Homo sapiens: one gene and its partners. The protein of the gene in region 2 interacts with the protein of the main gene of each other region in a pairwise test. Each region holds a gene or a part of one and is shown on either strand. Other genes may lie near its edges.

Region 1 (2,697 bases), on a different chromosome or scaffold from region 2:
CCCTGGACATCTCATAACCTATAAAATTTGTTAATACTAAGACGTCTCAAATGTGTTTGGGAAGGGGATATTAACATTTATTAGTAAGAATTAGCTGGAGTCCTCAGAAGCACAGGAAGGAGCTGGAGTGCAATCAACGGGTGATTAGAGGACAGAGGACACAGGACATTGGTCATGAGGGGGTGGCATGTGGACGTCGTCAGGAATTATCTATTTCCACATTTCTCAACTCTCCTTTAGGGGCATTTGAAGCCCACCCCAGACGAAGTATAACCAGCCCTTTACAGCTCAACACCCCTCCCCCACACTCCCAATCAGTTTGAGCATTTCTGGTTGACATTTACTGCATAAAAACTTATCCTTGACAGCTCTCTATATAATCTACATAGCACAAACAGAGGCCAACGAACAAATTTTTTAAAGTGAGCTCTGTACATATTCTACATGTTATAAAATGAGAAGCAGGCAAACAAATTTTTAAAAACACAGCGGTTAATAAAACATTAATTGAATCAGGACACAGCAAAGTAGCACTACAAACACTTTTTTTAATGACATCAGATGGTACATTTATACAAATTACAAGCTACAATATAGTGAATACAAAATCCATCCAGAAAACGGTTAGAAAAGCATCACTTAACAGAAGTAAATCGGATTCAAGTAGCTAAAGAACTCAAGCCCCCCATTTTGATGATTATACACGGCTTGAAATGCAGCACATCCAAATCCTCCCCCTAGTCAGGGCACTATTCAATACTACAGCATATTCAATGACTCTAGTGATGTAAAGATTCTAACACTTTTAGCATCGACGTCAAGAGACATCTCGTAACAGGTTCACTATGCAAAACTCAAATGAGAATGTGTGAACGTTCTTTGCAAACTGTAAGGTGCTGTGCAGATGTTGTTAGCTATTGCTATTATTACTGTTCAGTGAGATTACACTGAACGTGGGGAAAAGGAAGACTACTCTGTATAACTGACAAATATGACTTACAGAACATCTTAAAAGGAATGCAGATATTACTTTCAAATACACATAGCAACAACACAGGCAAGGAAAGTGTGGCCAGGAGTGATGTCGAGGAATTCCTATTTTAAGGAATATATAAAGGATTAAGCTATTCATAGATTATGTGTAATATTTATCATTAGATTCCCAAAGTCCCTGAAAATAATTTATTTTTAAGGTGACCCTTTCCCCCTGAAAAGGGAAAAAGAAATCTTGTCAGGTTACTAATGTGCTGCTTCAGCCAGCTCTTGTAAAAATTATCTTAAACATAGGAGTACAGTCTGAATTAATAGTTATACTAATCTGGTGGGTGACACAGAGTGCTTGACAGCAGAGAAACCTGCCACTGACCTCAGACAAGTGACAAATTCTGTGTCAGAGTTGAACCATAAGTTTACAACTTCACTTGGGCATAAATTAAACAATAAACATGAACTTGTCTAGAGATAAGAAATACACACTAGGTACATCTAAAATCGGATTTAAATCCTTTTTATGTACTTTCGGGTTTCATCTTTCTTTGTATATACCCTACTTGTTTAACTGATTTTAGTGGTCTCCTTGGGTATTCTAACTGTATACATAAAATTGACATGAAAATGGAAAACAAACGCCAAACAAGTCAATTGGTTGTTTCTTTTGGCAAAGCTGATGACATTTTCATGATGAAAATGTTCCAATTATTAGGCCAGGCACGGTGGCTGATACCTGTAATCCCAGCACTTTGGGAGGCGGAGGCGGGTGGATCACCTGAGGTCAGGAGTTCGAGACTAGCCTGGCTAACATGGTGAAACCCCGTCTCTACTAAAAATACAAAAATTAGCCGGGTGTGGTGGCACGCACCTGTCATCTGAGGTACTCAGGGGGCTGAGGCAGGAGAACTGCTTGAACCCGGGAGGCGGAGGTTGCAGCGAGCCGAGATTGCGCCCTTGCACTCCAGCCTGGGCAAGAAGGGCAAAACTCCGTCTCGAAAAAAAAAAAAAGAAAAAAGAAAACAAAATGTTCTAATTATTACAATGTATTTCTGTTAGATTTCCATGAAACATGGGGATTTTTAATGGCAGGTTTAAATTTTTTTTCACTAACAACCCCAAACCAAATTCTACTGTTATATGTACAATGGTATCCATTTGAAGAACTAATGACATCAGATACATTCTACAGCAGACTTTTCATTTCTCAACACAAATGAGAAAAAGGACTACATTCTCCAGGGCCAAACAGGAGGTGAGGAAGGTAATGTGTTACCGTAAATAGGGTTAAATCAGTAGTTTGGACTGACACTTCAAGTTATATCTCCTAACTGAGGTTATTCTTACAATCAGTTTTCAAACAATAGGGAACATATTTCTACCTTAAAACATGTATAAGGGCTCAACTGTAGCTTTCCTTTCTATACATCTTGAAGTATATACATTGTGTAAAAGGAAACTAGTGAGACATTTTGAAAAATAAATCTATTTGCCAAATACCATATGTTATTTAACATAGTTAAAAACAGCAGCAAACTAGTGAGTTAACAGTTAAAACTCTAGGAAAAAACTGCTTTGAAAACAAGCCTATTTTGTTATAAGCCTAAATATCAACCCTAGCATTTGATTTTAACCTTCAAACATTTGGCGCTTTTTCCAAGAGGAAATTACAACTGCCTTTGCATATGCCCCTGGTTTAAATACTTGCAG
Region 2 (7,925 bases):
AAAAATGCAAAAATTAGTCAGGCATGGTGGCGTGCACCTGTAATCCCAGCTATTTGGGAGGCTGAGGCAGGAGAATCACTTGAACCTAGGAGGTGGAGGTTGCAATGAGCCGAGATGGTGCCACTGCACTCCAGCCTGGACAACAGAGCGAGACTCGTTCTCAAAAAAAAAAGACCTTCAAAAAGCGCTATAGCCATATGAGCCAACAATCCCACTCCCAGTGGGATACCCATGTGAAATGAAAACCTTTGTTCATATATAAAAATTCATGGCTGGGTGCGGTGGCTCATGCCTGTAATCCCAGCACTTTGGGAGGCCGAGGCGGGAGGATCACAAGGTCAAGAGATGGAGACCATCCTGACCAACATGGTGAAATTCCGTCTGTACTAAAAACACAAAAATTAGCTGGGCATGGTGGTGCACACCTGTAACCCAGCTATTCGGGAGGCTGATGCAGGAGAATCGCTTGAACCCAGAAGGTGGAGGTTGCAGTGAGCCGAGATTGCGCCACTGCACTCCAGCCTGGGTGACAGAGCGAGACTCCATCTCAAAAATAAAAATAAAAAAGATACTATTATAATGTTCATTTCCTGGCTCCTCTCAATTTCATCAACATAGCAACACCAGCAGGGTAAAATCTACTTTTTTTGTTTTTTTTTTTGAGATGGAGTCTCATGAGCGAATGTTTGCTGAGGCTTTATTAGTTATTACCAACAGCAGTTAAACCCTAACTGTCCTTCAATGGATGAATGGATAAACAAATGGGATCCATCCACACAATGGAATACTATTCAGCTATAAAAAGGAATGAGCTACGGATACAAAAAAACAACATTACAGATGAACCTCATATGCATTATGTGGGTGAAAGAAGCCAGGCTCAAAAGGCTGCATGATTCCATTTCACTCAACCTTCTGGAAAAGGCAAAAGTATCAGGACAGAAAGCAGATGAATGCTTGCCAGGGGCTGGGACCTGCAACAAATGGAGTAGTTTGGAGAATTTTTTGGGTTGGTGTAAATGCTCTGTATCTTGATTGTAGTGGTGGTTGCATGACCGTATGTGTTCAGAGCTGTACACTAAAATGGGTGAATTTTACTACATGTCAATTACACTTCAATGAAAAAAAAAAAAAGAAGGAGAAAAACCAAACAACCCAGGCAAGACAGGATAGGGCTTGGGAAACCTCTCTCTGGGATTCCTGACACAGCAGAAACTTGCTAACGAGCCCTGGCTTGTCTAGTCCCAGCTTCACCTCCCCTCACACACCCAGCGAGCCAGCTCATTCATACACAACCCAAACCAGCCAAGCCAGGTTCTGGAAAAAGTCAAGATCCGACCTGATCTGCCCATGGGAAATACAAAAGGAGCTTGTGAGACACGACATTACCAAACACATCACATCTCTGGCATTCAAATGGTCTCGGGTTCCCCCCAAACCTGAGGTCCAGAAAAGCTCATCCTTGGAAGCTGCCGCAGCTTAGGCCGTCTCTTGCAGTTTCTCCCTTGGAAATTACTTTAATAAAGGAGCTAGTTACCATCAGCTCAACAACGACCCAACAGATCTACCAGTCACCATTGTGAATCAGCCACTGCTGGGACTGTGAAGGGACCAGCAGGATCTAGCTGTCCCTACAGACAGGCACTGTCAGGGGGCCACAGTACAGTGTCCTCAGTGGCTTGAACAAAGTGGCCAGTCTTCATTCCAAGGGTGGGTTTCATTTCTGCTGACAGCCTGGTTACCGGAAGCCAGATGGGCAAACAAGGGGTTCCTCAAGCCTGCAACACCCCTCAAAAACAAAGAGGAATTCTACTTTGGAGGCTGGATCTTGCCTTTCTGCCAGCTTCTTATGGGTGAGGAGGGGGTGGAAATTATTTGTATGTTCCGGTTGACACGCAGCATAGTAGGTGCATGAGGATGATTTGGTGCCTGTTGAGTAAGTGTGGGGCTCAGAAAAGCAGTCTCAAAAGGGAATTTCCAAAACGTTCTGAGTTTATGGGAATATGTATGGAATCTCTTCAAAATGACACCTACTTGTACACCATCATGCCCTATCTAACTGCAACCCAGAGATGGAAGACTCACCTCTTCAGATCACATTAAATAAGTTGAAAATTTGCATAACTGGTGAAGGAGCAACACATGGATGGGTCTTAGGGTTTCAACCCTATCCCCATGGCCCCTCACAATCAAGTACCTCAGGTAACTCAATCTGATAGGATTTTAACTGTGGTCTCAGGCCGAGTGGGATGGCTCATGCCTGTAATCCCAGCGCTTTGGGAGGCCGAGGAGGGAGGATCACTTGAGGCCAGGAGTTCCAGAGCAGCCTGGGCAACATAATGAGATCCCATCTCTACTAAAAAATTAACTTGTGGCCTGGAAGCAAATACTCTCCCCCAGCACCCAAGAAGGGCAGGGAGTGAGGCCTGTCATGACACAGAAGGCCTCAAAACTCAAACTGCCACCAGAAAAATATCTCTGCTTTTTTTTTTTTTTTTTTTTTTTTTTTTTTTTTGAGACGGAGTTTCATTCTTGTCACCCAGGCTGGAGTGCAGTGGTGTGATCTCTGCTCACTGCAACCTCTGCCTCCTGGGTTCAACTGATTCTTCTGCCTCAGCTACTTGAGTAGCTGTGATTACAGGTGCCCACCACCACACCCAGATAATTTTTGTACTTTTAGTAGAGATGGTTTCGCCATGTTGGCCAAGCTGGTCTCAAACTCCTGACCTCAGGTGATCCTCCTGCCTCGGCCTCCCAAAGTGCTGGGATTACAGGCCTGAGCCACTGCGTCCGGCCAGATCCTTGCTTTTGAAAGCACACATACAGAACACCTTCAGGTTTTCATCTGTTTTTCCCAGATAGCACCAGTGAAAAAGATAATGAGTTTCCAGAAGACCACATAGCGTTGGCTTCCTGTACTCGCAGTCAGGGATCCCCAAAGGCTACAGCTTCAGAAGTTTCCAGAGCCAAATCTGGATGACTGAGTTCCAAGCACTGACTCACCCTTGCCTCCGCCTGCTCCCCTGTGAATCAGTGATCTACCTTTAAGGACTTCTCATCGTGTCTCTCATGACAGGCCTGTGAATTCCAGATGGTTCAACAGCTCATGAAAGCTCAGGGGCAGGATCTGGAAACAAGAGTAAGGAGAGGAGGTGAAGAAGTGTGCCAGGTACTGCCTGTTCCTTTGTCTGTCAAAAGTCTTTTCTTTTTTTTTCTTTTTTTTTTGAGACAGAATCTCACTCTGTCGCCCAGGCTGGAGTGCAGTGGTGCGATCTTGGCTCACTGCAACCTCCACCTCCCGGGTTCAAGCGATTCTCAGCCTCCCTAGTAGCTGGGATTACAGGTGCCCACCATTACACCTGGCTAATTTTTGTATTTTTAGTAGAGACAGGGTTTCACCACGTTGTCCAGGCTGGTCTTGAATTCCTGACCTCATGTGATCTGCCTGTCTTGGCCTCCCGAAGTGCTGGGATTACAGGTGTGAGCCACCGTGCCTGGCCAGAAATTTATGTGTTTTTCATTTACAGCACATCTCAATTTGGACCAGTCCCATTTCTTTTTCTTTTTTCTTTTTTTTTTTTTGAGACGGTCTGTTGCTCAGGCTGGAGTGTAGTGGCGAGATCTTGGCTCACTGCAACCTCCGCCTCCCGGGTTCAAGCAATTCTTCTGCCTCAGCCTCCTGATTAGCTGGGACTACAGGTGTGTACCACCACGCCCGGCTAATTTTTGTATTTTTAGTAGCGATGAGGTTTCACCATATCTGCCAGGCTGGTCTCGAACTCCTCACCTCGTGATCTGCCCCCCTCGGCCTCCCAAGGTGCTAGGATTACAGGTGTGAGCCATCGTTCCCGGCCTGGACCAGCCCCATTTCAAGGGCTCAGTGGCCCCATTGGAGCCACTAGACACGATTCTGGACGTCAGGCAGAGACCAATGTAGTTCCCCTGTCCATAGGGCGGAGCAAAGTGTGGAGGGGGGCCGGGCGGGGTGGCTCAGGCCTGTAATCCTAGCACTTTGGGAGGCTGAGGCGGGAGGATCACCTGAGGTCAGGAGTTCAAGACCAGCCTGGCCAACCATGGGGAAACCCCGTCTCTACTAAAAAAAATACAAAAATTAGTCGGGCGTGGTGGCGGGTGCCTGTAATCTCATCTACTTGGGAGGCTGAGGCATGAGAATCGCTTGAACCCGGGAGGCGGAGGTTGCGTGAGCCGTCATTGCGCCACTGCACTCCAGCTGGGGGACAGAACGAGATTGTTTCAAAAACAAAACAAAACAGAAAAACAAAGTGGGGCGGGGCTTTCATTAAAAACGGCAGTGAAGCCACCCCAGAATGGGGCTGGGGCTCAAGGTTCTTGCAGGTTGGGGGTTCCCAAATGGGGAGCTTTTCGCGACTCCGTTTCGCCTTTCCTTCCCTCCCACTCAAGAGTCTCCTCCCATAGTGACCTCCTCGCCAACCAGACTCCGCAGCCCGCGACCCCAGCCCCTAGCCCTCTCCTGCTGTTCCCGGTGTACCCCGGGGGCCGCCCACCTCAGAATTTACCCCTTCGGCGCCGCCTGTCATGTGGATGCTGCCTTGCCTGTCACTCAACTTCTTACCCCGCCCCCGCGTCTGGCCTAACCGTCGCTTACCTTGGTTTCCACAGCGACGCCATCAGGGGGCGTGGCAAAGGGACGCGCGGGGCAGAGACCTCCTTTGGATTGGTGGATGGTCAAGCCCCTTCTCTTTAGCCCCTCCTACAGGCGTTCCGCCCCCTTCGATTGGTCTCGCAAGTTGATTGGTCAATCCCCTGGTGCTAGTCCTAGTCTTGGTTCGGACCGGCCCCAAGGAGCAGGGGCGAACGTGGGCGCCTCGTGCCCTGATTGGCCGACGGGGCGCGCGCGGCCTGGAGGGGCGGGGCGGACGCAGAGCCGCGTTTAGTCTATCGCTGCGGTTGCGAGCGCTGTAGGGAGCCTGTGCTGTGCCGCGCAGTTAGGCAGCAGCAGCCGCGGAGCAGTAGCCGCCGTGGGAGGGAGCCATGAAGCATTACGAGGTAAGAAGCGAGAAACAGGGGCCGTGTGGCCACTGCTGACCCATTCTTTTTCCTTCTTTGCGGGACCACGGGACCCCACTTTCTGGTCCTGTGCCCCGAAGGAAGAGCCAGACGGCGCAGGCGCAGTGGGCAAGCGTTGCGCCCCGGGCCACTCGTAAATTCCAATGCGCATGTGCGCAGGAAGTATTTATAAATCTGCAACCCAGGCTGTTTTGGGGGTACTTTTTCTTGGGGGTCTCTGCAGGGGCTGGGACGCTTGCAGGTTCCTTGCAGCTCCCCCAGCGGGCTGAGTTGCAGACTTTGTCATGGGAGCCACGAAGGTGCGGGACCCTTGCTCCCAATCCGAGGGAGTCTTGCACAAATCTTGCGCCACGCCGCCGTCACCAGCGTAGGAAGGGGCTTTGCTATCAGTATTCTTGTGTACGACCTTTGGACCCCTTCCCTCGCCCGGGACGTTCCCGGGAGACTTAGGCGGTGAGGGAGGTGCAGCTCCACGGCTGGCTTTCGCAGAGCAGCGAAGCTGATCTTGCTTTCTGGTTATCAAAGAGGTCATCTACGTCAACCCTTGGGTGTCACCAAGGAGAAATCTTATACCCACCCACAGCCACTCTTGAAGCCCAAGTCTTCTGACTCCTAACTTGGGTCTCTTTTTCCCTTAAAACGAAGTCTTCTGATGTGCTTATCGCCCTAGGTGATAATATAATATTAATAATTCAACCAATTATCCCTGAATTATTGCTGACTTTTAAGTAACTATCATCAAATAATAAAATTTGTTATTAAAATTCAAAATAACAATTTAGCAAGTGCTTACTCTTGTGCTGGTGAGATTCTGTTACCTTGTATAAGAACTATTATTATTCCTGTTTGTAAGGATGAATAAAGTCTCAGAGATATAAAGTGACTTGTTCAAAGGCCCCTAGTTAGTAAATGCAAAACAGATAGGGGAACTCAGGACGCCAAGGTCTTAGTTCCTAGCCACTATGCCATGCTGGTCCTCAAATGAAAAATAGCAGGTCGAGCGATTTCTTGTTTCTCACTTCCCCTCCAATTTAAAAAATTCTGGCAAAATACACATAAAATTTACCATCTTGACTATTTTTAAGTGTGCAGTTCAGTGGCATTAAGAACATTCACATTGTTGTGCAACCATCACCACCACCCATCTCCAGAACTCTTTGCATCTTGGAAAACAGAAGCTGTAGACGTTAAATACTAACTCCCCATTCCTCTCCACCTCCACCTCTGGCAGCCACCATTCTACTCAGCCACCATTCCGTCTTAATGAATTGACTACTCTAGGTACCTTGGATACGTAGAAGGATTTTTTTTTTCTTTTGGAGACAGAGTTTCGGTCTTATTGCCCGGGCTGGAGTGCAATGGCGCGATCTCGGCCTACTGCAAACTCCGCCTCCTGGGTTTAAGCGATTCTCCTGCCTCAGCCTCCTGAATAGCTGGGATTACAGGTGACCGCCACCATGCCCGGCTAATTTTTTGTATTTTTAGTAGAGATGGGGGTTTCACCATGTTGACCAGGCTGGCCTCAAACTCTTGACCTCAAGTGATTTGCCCTCCTCGGCCTCCCAAAGTACTGGGATTACAGGTGTGAGCTAGTGCGCCCGGCTGTTTGTTTTTATTGACAAGTTGAATATTACTACCTCTGCCTCCTGCCCCCTTTATTGCTACTATTTTTGGAAATTTACCCACAATCCTTTGAAGCCTTTTTTTGAGACGGAGTTTCGCTCTTGTTGAGTACGCTGGAGTGCAATGGCGTGATCTTGGCTCACCGCAACCTCCACCTCCCGGGTTCAAGTGATTCTCCTGCCCCAGCCTCCTGAGTAGCCGGAATTACAGTCATGAGCCACCATGCCCGGCTAATTTTGTATTTTTAGTAGAGACAGGGTTTCTCCATGTTGGTCAGGCTGGTCTCGAACTCCCGACCTCAGGTGATCCACCCACCTTGGCCTCCCAGAGTGCTGGGATTACAGGCATGAGCCACGGTGCCTAGCCCCTTAGAAGCCTTTAACCCACAAATCCTGTAATTTTTGACATGGTATCAAGAATGAGGAGGTTTGTATTCAATAATCTCTGTCATTTAAGTTTTCATTCTAGAATGAAGTTCTGATGTGGATTCCCCTCTCAAACTCTATATCTAAACCTGTAGTCCCACTACTGTAGTCTCAGCTACTCGGGAGGCTGAAGCAGGAGGATGGCTTGAGCCCAGGAGGTTGAGGCTGCAGTGAGCCCAAAAATCAGGCCACTGCACTCCAGCCTGGGCAACAGAGACCCTGTTTGAAGAAAAAAAAAAAAAAAAAAAAAAGCTACCATGTCCAGCTTGAAACATGCAGTTTGGAACATCCATATGGCATTTTGCAAATGTAGTTGGTTTAGTTTTGCTAGTTAACAGTCAGATAAAGTAGGCCTCTGAGCACCCTGGGGGTGCGTGCTTTTGTTCCAGGAAGCTGGGCACAGCCTGAGGCCCAAGACTTGGACTGGAGAATATGCTCCACCGTACTTAATCCTTTTCTCTCCCAGAAAGAAGGGGGAGCTTTGGCCAGGCATGGTGGCTCACGCCTGTAATCCCAGCACTTTGGTAGGCTGAGGTGGCCGGATCGCTTGAGGTGAGGAGTTCAAGACCAGCCTGGCTAACATGGAGAAACCTTGTCTCTACTAAAAATACAAAAGTGAGCCGAGTGTTGTGGCACACGCCTGTAATCTCAGCTACTTGGAGGCAGAGGTTGCAGTGAGCTGAGATCATGCCACTGTACTCCAGCCTGGATGACAGAGCGAGAGTCTGTCTCAAAAAAAAAAAAAAAAAAAAAAAGGGAAGCTTCAAACTCACTGTTCAAAGTGACCTTGAAGGAAAAAATAAATTGTTATTTTGCTGTGTTGTTTGT
Region 3 (7,038 bases), on a different chromosome or scaffold from region 2:
GGAACAGTTGACAGAGAGCAAGCACTGGCCTCTGAGGGGCCACAGCAACAGCCTTTTCAAGGTGACATATAGCAAGCACTGGCCTCTGAGGGGCCACAGCAACAGCCTTTTCAAGGTGACAGATAGTAAGCACTGGCCTCTGAGGGGCCACAGCAACAGGCTTTTCAAGGTGACATATAGCAAGTACTGGCCTCTGAGGGGCCACAGCAACAGGCTTTTCAAGTTAGCTGTCGAAGACGTAGGGCAGGGATGGAGGGCACCTACTGCTCTAAACAAAACGATGAATGAGGAGTTCTGTGCAGAGAAAAAGAGAATGAGGAGAAAAGAACCATGATCCTAGGACAGCAGAAACGCTGAAGTCCAATTACAAGTGAAAAGAGTAAGTCAATTCATCAACAGTGCATATGTAAAAACAAGAGGATCCAAGAGGCGATGGGAAGACAATAAAATATACTGAAGAATGTACTACATACTTCAGAAAATGATATGCCTTTTCTTTTTCTTTTCCTTTTTTTTTTTGGCAGGTAAAGAAAATGATATGTTAATGTTAGCAGAAATTGAGTCACTCTGGTTGTAGAGAAACAATTTTGAATATGGAAATGTAATGAGTATATAACAAATTACTGTAAAGCTCAAATGTGATAATGTATGTGAAACCGTCTGTTATATGTTAAGTCCTTTGCATCTGGCAGGCAGCATGGTTATGGAGGATGACACCAAGTCCATGTACCTATAATCCACAGAGACATTTAATAGCTTTGCAAGCCAACCAGTTTCAATGATCTACACAGGAAATCCTGGCAAATGTTGCTAACAGCAACTTGACTAATAGAATTGCCTGATTTGAGTTGTAAAGCATTTTTGACGTACCTGTCTACCTGCTTTGGCAGATGTGCTCATAGCTGAGGAGTGGTCACTAAGTGGAAGGGAGGAAGCAGAGCCCATGAAGAATCTATCAACTGGTGGATTAGCACCTGGACAATTAATATTTGACTATATTGGCAAAGTGATTGGATATTTCATAGTGAACAATACTTTGACTTCATGTACCTAGCACTTAATTACTGAAAGTACATTAATTATCTATTTAAGAATGTAAATGAGTTACTACTAGGAAGAAGTTTTAGGTCATTGGAGACTATTGGAAGATAAAATTATGAGTTGTTGGTTAAAATGAAAAGGAAATGGTATCTACACAAAAGTATGAGAGGAAGAAATATCGCAGTCCTTGCTTATCTGAAGTTTCACTTTCCGTAGCTTCTGTTACACCTGGTCAACCACAGTCCAAAAATATTAAATGGAAAATTCCTGAAAGAAACAATTCCTAATTCTTAAGTTGTACACTGTTCTCAGCAGCATGATGAAATCTCATGCTGTCCCACTCTATCCCACCTAGGACACGAATCTTCCCTTTGTCCAGTGTATCCATACTGTATATGCTACTGGCCCATTAATCACTTAGTAGCTAACTTGGTTATCAGTGCTTGTGTTCAAGTAACCCTTATTTTATTTAAAAACAGCCCCAAAATGCAAGAGTAGTGATGCTGGCAATTCAGATATGCCAAAGAGGAGCCATAAAGAACTTCCTTGAAGCGAGACAGTAAAAGTTCTCAGCTTAATAACGAAACAAAACAAACTGTATGCTAAAGTTGCTAAGTCCTACAGTAGGAACAAATCTTATATTTGTGAAATTGTGAAGGAAAAAGAAATTTGTGCTTGTTTTGCTGGTGAACCTCAAACTGCAAAAGTTGCGGCCACAGGGCATGATAAATGCTTAGTAAATATGTAAAAGGCATTACATTTGCGGGTAGAAGGCATAAACAGAAACGTGTTTCGGTCAGCAGCAATCGGGTTGTGTGCTAGCCGCTGTTTCTGGTATCCAGTGGGGGTTTTGGAATGTATTCCCCTTGGATAAGAGGGAACTACTGTATAGGTTTAAAATGATGACTTGGGTCAGGTGTGGTGGCTCATGCCTGAAATCCTAGAATTTGGGGAGAGTGAGGCAGGCAGATTGCTTGAGCTCAGGAGTTCGAGAGCGGCCTGGGCAACATGATACGAACAAGATATCAGAAAAATATAACTGAGTTGCAGACCACATCCACACCATCTGAACCTCCATGAGAACTCAGATTACAGGACTTTACCATTTAATCAGTCTTCTTTTTAACAACACTGCATATCTGGGATATGTTTCCCACTATTAACCCAGTTCCTACAGTGAATGTGAGCTTTATCTCAGCTATATTGACATGACCTGGAACTCTGACCTGGAACTCTTTAGCCATAACAAACATGTGAATCAGAAAAGTTGACTAGTGTTTGTTAGTGTTGACATTATTTTGGTCTATATAAACACTTACCTCTTTGACGCTATGTGTTACTGCCCATATTAGAAAAACTCTTGACATCACCTGGAAAGAAGTCAGGACAACAGAAGATGGAACAATTCCTGAAAGAAATTTTGGGATGGATAAATAAATGTACTGTACTAAGTTTCGATATATAATATATTTTCTAAAACATTCCAACTTAAATGTTTAGAGTCAAAACGGTCTTGAGCAACTGAAAGGTGTCTATATTGTTACACAGACTAAGTTTTCAATGTAGTCCACATTAAAACAAAGTTTTCTCCCTAAAAACAATAATATTTTTAATGGTATTATAAAACCATGGGATCCAGGTACCTTTCTTAAACCTCTCAAAACCACTGACCAAGTACAGTATTTTTTACACTTACTGTATAGATGGAGAAAGCAAAACCACTACCTAATCTTTAAAATAAGACTCATTTTACAATACGGGTTTCAAAACAAATAGGAAACAAAGGATGAGAAATCAATCCTATTTGTGTCTAATGAGTGCTGGAAGCTCATGGACATCAGACTTGATACACTATCTAATGGTTAAGTTAGGTATCTTTTATTATCTACTTGAATATTTTGCCAACAAGCATAACAACATAAAAGACTATCTTTAAAACCTTTTTTTTTTTTTATCACCTTGTTCATTACAAGCCCTGGCACAATTATCCTCCCAATGTCCTCAAGTTATAACACTGGAATCATCTTTGATTATTTTCTTTATTTATTTTTTGAGACCGAGTCTCACTCTGTCACCCAGGCTGGAGTGTAGTGGTGCAATCTCAGCTCACTGCAACCTCCACCTCCCAGGTTCAAGTGATTCTTGTGCCTCAGCCTCCCAAGTAGCTGGGACTACAGGCATGTGCCACCATCGCTGGCTAAGTTTTTGTACTTTTGGTAGAGATAGGGCTTCACCATATTGGCCAGGCTGGTCTTGAACTCCTGACCTCAGCTGATCCGCCTGCCTCGGCTTCCCAAAGTGCTGGGATTACAGGTGTGAGCCACCACACCTGGCAGTTAGTTATATCTTAACAAAGCTGTTACTAAAAAAATAAATGGCCAGAAACAGTGGCTCACGCCTGTAATCCCAACACTCTGGGAGGCTGAAGCAGGAGAATTGCTTGAGTCCAGGAGTTCTAGACCATCCTGCACAACATAGCGAGACCTTGTCTCTACTAAAAATAAAAAACATATTAGCTCGCCATGGTAGCGTACGCCTCTAGTACCAGTTCTAGGGAGGCTGAGGCAAGAGGATTGCTTGAGTTTGGGAGGTTGAGGCTGCAGTGAGCTGTGATCATGCCACTGCACTCCAGCCTGGGTGACAGAGTGAGGTCCTGTCTCAGAATAAATGAGTAAAAGTAAATAAATACATAAATAAATGTATAAATGAATTATAAAACCTGGTTATATAATTGTGTAATACAGCTAACAGAGCTAATTAGTAAGTCAAACATTTAGTGAATATATTTAGCCAGATCACACTTAGATGGGACAATATGCAGTTGTGGATTTCCTCTAGAAACCAATTTAAAAAAAAAAATATATTGAAGATGGAAAGCTCATATACTGCAAAACAAGGCTTATGTTTTAAGCCATTCTTGTAAAATAATGTTTAATATTTAGGAAAATGGCAGAATTGTACTCTTCCATATTTCTATTATAATAGACCTATTTTGAAAATCATATTTTGCTTATTAACATGTTAAGTTTCATTTTGCTGGGAGAGGGGGATTAATGAGGTTGAAGCAATAACTACCTAGGCACCTGTAAGGAAAGCACCCATATAGAGGAAGCCTTTGATTTCTTTGATTTCAAACAAACAAACAAACAAAAAGTAAAAAGAAAAGAACTGAGAATTAAAGGATTTCTTTTTTTAAAAAAAAGAGACCAGATTTCACTCTGTCACCCAGGCTGGAGTACATGACGCCATCATATCTCTCACTGCAGCCTCAAACTCCTGGGCTCAGGCCATCCTCTCGCCTCAGCGTCCCAAGTAGCTGGGACCACACGGTGTGCCAGGTAATTTTTTTTTTTTTTTTTTTGAGACGGAGTCTTGCTCTGTCGCCAGGCTAGAGTGCTGTGGGGCGATCTCAGCTCACTGCAACCTCCAACTCCCTGGTTCAAGGGGTTCTCCTGCCTCCGCCTCCCGAGTAGCTGGAGTTACAGGCATAAGCCACCATGCCCGGCTAATTTTTATATTTTTAGTAGAGATGGGGTTTCATTATGTTGGCCAGGATGGTCTCGATCTCCTGACCTTGTGATCCGCCTGCCTTGGCCTCCCAAAGTGCTGGGATTACAGGCGTGAGCCACTGCGCCCGGCCTGCCCAGGTAATTTTTTAAAGTTTTTGTAGAGACAACGTCTTGCTATGTTGCCCAGGCTGGTTTCGAACTCCTAAGCTCACACAATTCTCCTGCCTTGGCCTCCCAAAATGCTGAGATTACAGGCGTGAGCCCCCATGCCCAGCTAAAGTAACTTTTTGTTGTTGTTGTTGTTGTTTTTAGATGGAGTTTCACTCCTGTCGCCCAGGCTGGAGTGCAATGGCGCAATTTCGGCTCACTGCAACCCCTGCCTCCTGGGTTCAAGTGATTCTCCTACCTTAGCCTCCCGAGTGGCTGGGATTATAGGCACGCGCTACCATGCCCAGTTCATTTTTGTGGTTTTAGTAGAGACGGGGTTTCACCATGTTGGTCAGGATGGTCTCGATCTCTTAACCTCGTGATCTGCCCGCCTCAGCCTCCCAAAGTGCTGGGATTACAGGCGCTAAGAGTAACTTTAAACAAATGGAACTAGAAGGTCTAGGGGCAAAAACTGCAATTCAGCTGAACACAGGTTTATTAATTATTCCCTCTCCACTATAAATCACCCTTCTCTAGGGAATATAAATTTGTATTTGTCTCCCTTTCAAAAATGCCATACATAAATTAACAGTGTTTTTCTTTTCTTTTCTTTTTTTGAGACAGTCTTGTTCTATCGCCCAGGCTGGAATGCAGTGGCACAATCTTGGCTCACTGCAACCTCCGCCTCCCAGGTTCAAGTGATTCTTGTGCCTCAGCCTCCTGAGTATCTGGGATTACAGGTATGCACCACCATGCCTGGCTAATTTTTGTATTTTTGTTAGAGGCGGAGTTTCAGGTCATCTGAAACTGACCTCAGGTCATCCACCCGCTGCCTCGGTCTCCCAAAGTGCTGAGATTACAGGTGTGAGTGAGCCACCACACCTGGTCAACAGTGTTTTTCTTAAAAATGCTTTAGTATCCACACACACACACAACGATTTATTTAGTGTATTTCTCACCAGTCTTTTCCTCTAAGCATATTTTAAACCAGTTTAACTTCTACTGTTTATATTGTTTTTGCTTTTCTCATTTAACATTTTAAGAATTTTCCTTCTCTTCTTCAAAAGATTTTAGCTTAAATCATGATATTCCTTTGAGTTAATATGTTTGTTTATTCTCCTTCTGTGGGACATTTAAATTGCCTCGAATTTCTTGATACTATAAATGAAGTAATGAAGCATTACAAATAACACTCAAAATTCGAGGCTTAGACCTTTTTTTAAAAAAAGGATTATTTCCTTGGGACATTTTCCCAGAAGTAGAAGTACTAGGTCAAATGGCATGAATGTTTTTAAGGCTCTTGAAATGTATTGCCAAACTGCTTTCTAAGAAGTTTATTACCAATTTATACTCCCACCAGCAATATACAAAAGTGCCTGTCTTAGCACACCTTTGGCAGTAAATTTAAATCTTAATAAGTAGTGAACAAAAAGCTGATCAATACTTTCTAATTGAAGTAGATGTCAAGATGTTTCTGGCCTTGCCTGCAGGTGCTTCTACCGTTCTCTATCCAGTGAACTCGCCTACTTAGACACCTTAATTTTCCCCAAATCATGTCATTCAGACCAACTGTCACTTAGTTTCTCTGTAGCATAGACAACTACTTCAACCAGTCACCCAGCAAACAGCAGTTCAGGCCCTCACCTGACAGCACAATCTCGAAATGCCTGCTCTACTGGACCAGTCAAAAGGCCAAGAGCTCTATCCCTGAATTTAAGCTAAAGAACAGATGGCCACATAGATGGGCATTATCTCAGCTCTGAACAGAGCTGGCATCACCAAGTTGGGCTTATCATTATTATCAGGTGAATTTCATAAGAAACTAAGGCCAGGCACAGTGGCTTACGCCTGTAATCCCAGCACTTTGGGAGGCTGAGGTGGGCAGATCACCTGAGGTCCGGAGTTTGAGACCAACCTGGCCCCTGGCCAACATGGTGAAACCCCGTCTCTACTAAATACAAAAATTAGCCGGGCGTGGTGGCAGTCGCCTGTAATCCCAGCTACTCGGGAGGCTGAGGCAGGAGATCTCTTGAACCCGGGAGCAGAGTTTGCAGTGAGCCGAAAACGTGCCACTGTACTCCAGCCAGGGTGACAGAGTGAGACTCCGTCTCAAAAAAAAAAAAAAAAAAAAAAAAAAGACTGTCAAACAGTATTAATATTACCTTATTTGCCGTAGGAATGGTGTACAGTATAATGTCCACCCTATCACTCAAAGCCTCTCATACAGGTAGGAAATTTGTTTTAGAGCTCAATGTTAAGAAAGGTTTGCTCCTTTCCAATAATAAGAATTATATAACTCTGTCACCCTCTTTAACTTGGTAGCCAGAAACCTTCACGCTAG

Evidence for each region. Proteins that work in one complex are often made in the same cells at the same time.
Region 1: the proteins of TECR (region 2) and VMA21 interact in binary tests that used the Homo sapiens proteins (3 or more experiments, as listed by UniProt).
Region 3: the proteins of TECR (region 2) and HACD2 interact in binary tests that used the Homo sapiens proteins (3 or more experiments, as listed by UniProt).

The regions. Positions count from the first base shown.
Region 1 is NC_000023.11:151,407,196-151,409,892, reverse strand, and holds the end of VMA21 (vacuolar ATPase assembly integral membrane protein VMA21), read right to left. Parts: 3' UTR 529-2,697; downstream 1-528. UniProt on the Homo sapiens protein: Required for the assembly of the V0 complex of the vacuolar ATPase (V-ATPase) in the endoplasmic reticulum.
Region 2 is NC_000019.10:14,524,684-14,532,608, forward strand, and holds the start of TECR (very-long-chain enoyl-CoA reductase), read left to right. Parts: upstream 1-4,910; 5' UTR 4,911-5,013; coding exon 5,014-5,028; intron 5,029-7,925. UniProt on the Homo sapiens protein: Involved in both the production of very long-chain fatty acids for sphingolipid synthesis and the degradation of the sphingosine moiety in sphingolipids through the sphingosine 1-phosphate metabolic pathway.
Region 3 is NC_000003.12:123,526,026-123,533,063, forward strand, and holds part of HACD2 (very-long-chain (3R)-3-hydroxyacyl-CoA dehydratase 2), read right to left. Parts: intron 2,450-7,038; coding exon 2,361-2,449; intron 1-2,360. UniProt on the Homo sapiens protein: Catalyzes the third of the very long-chain fatty acids (VLCFA) elongation four-step cycle (condensation, reduction, dehydration, and reduction).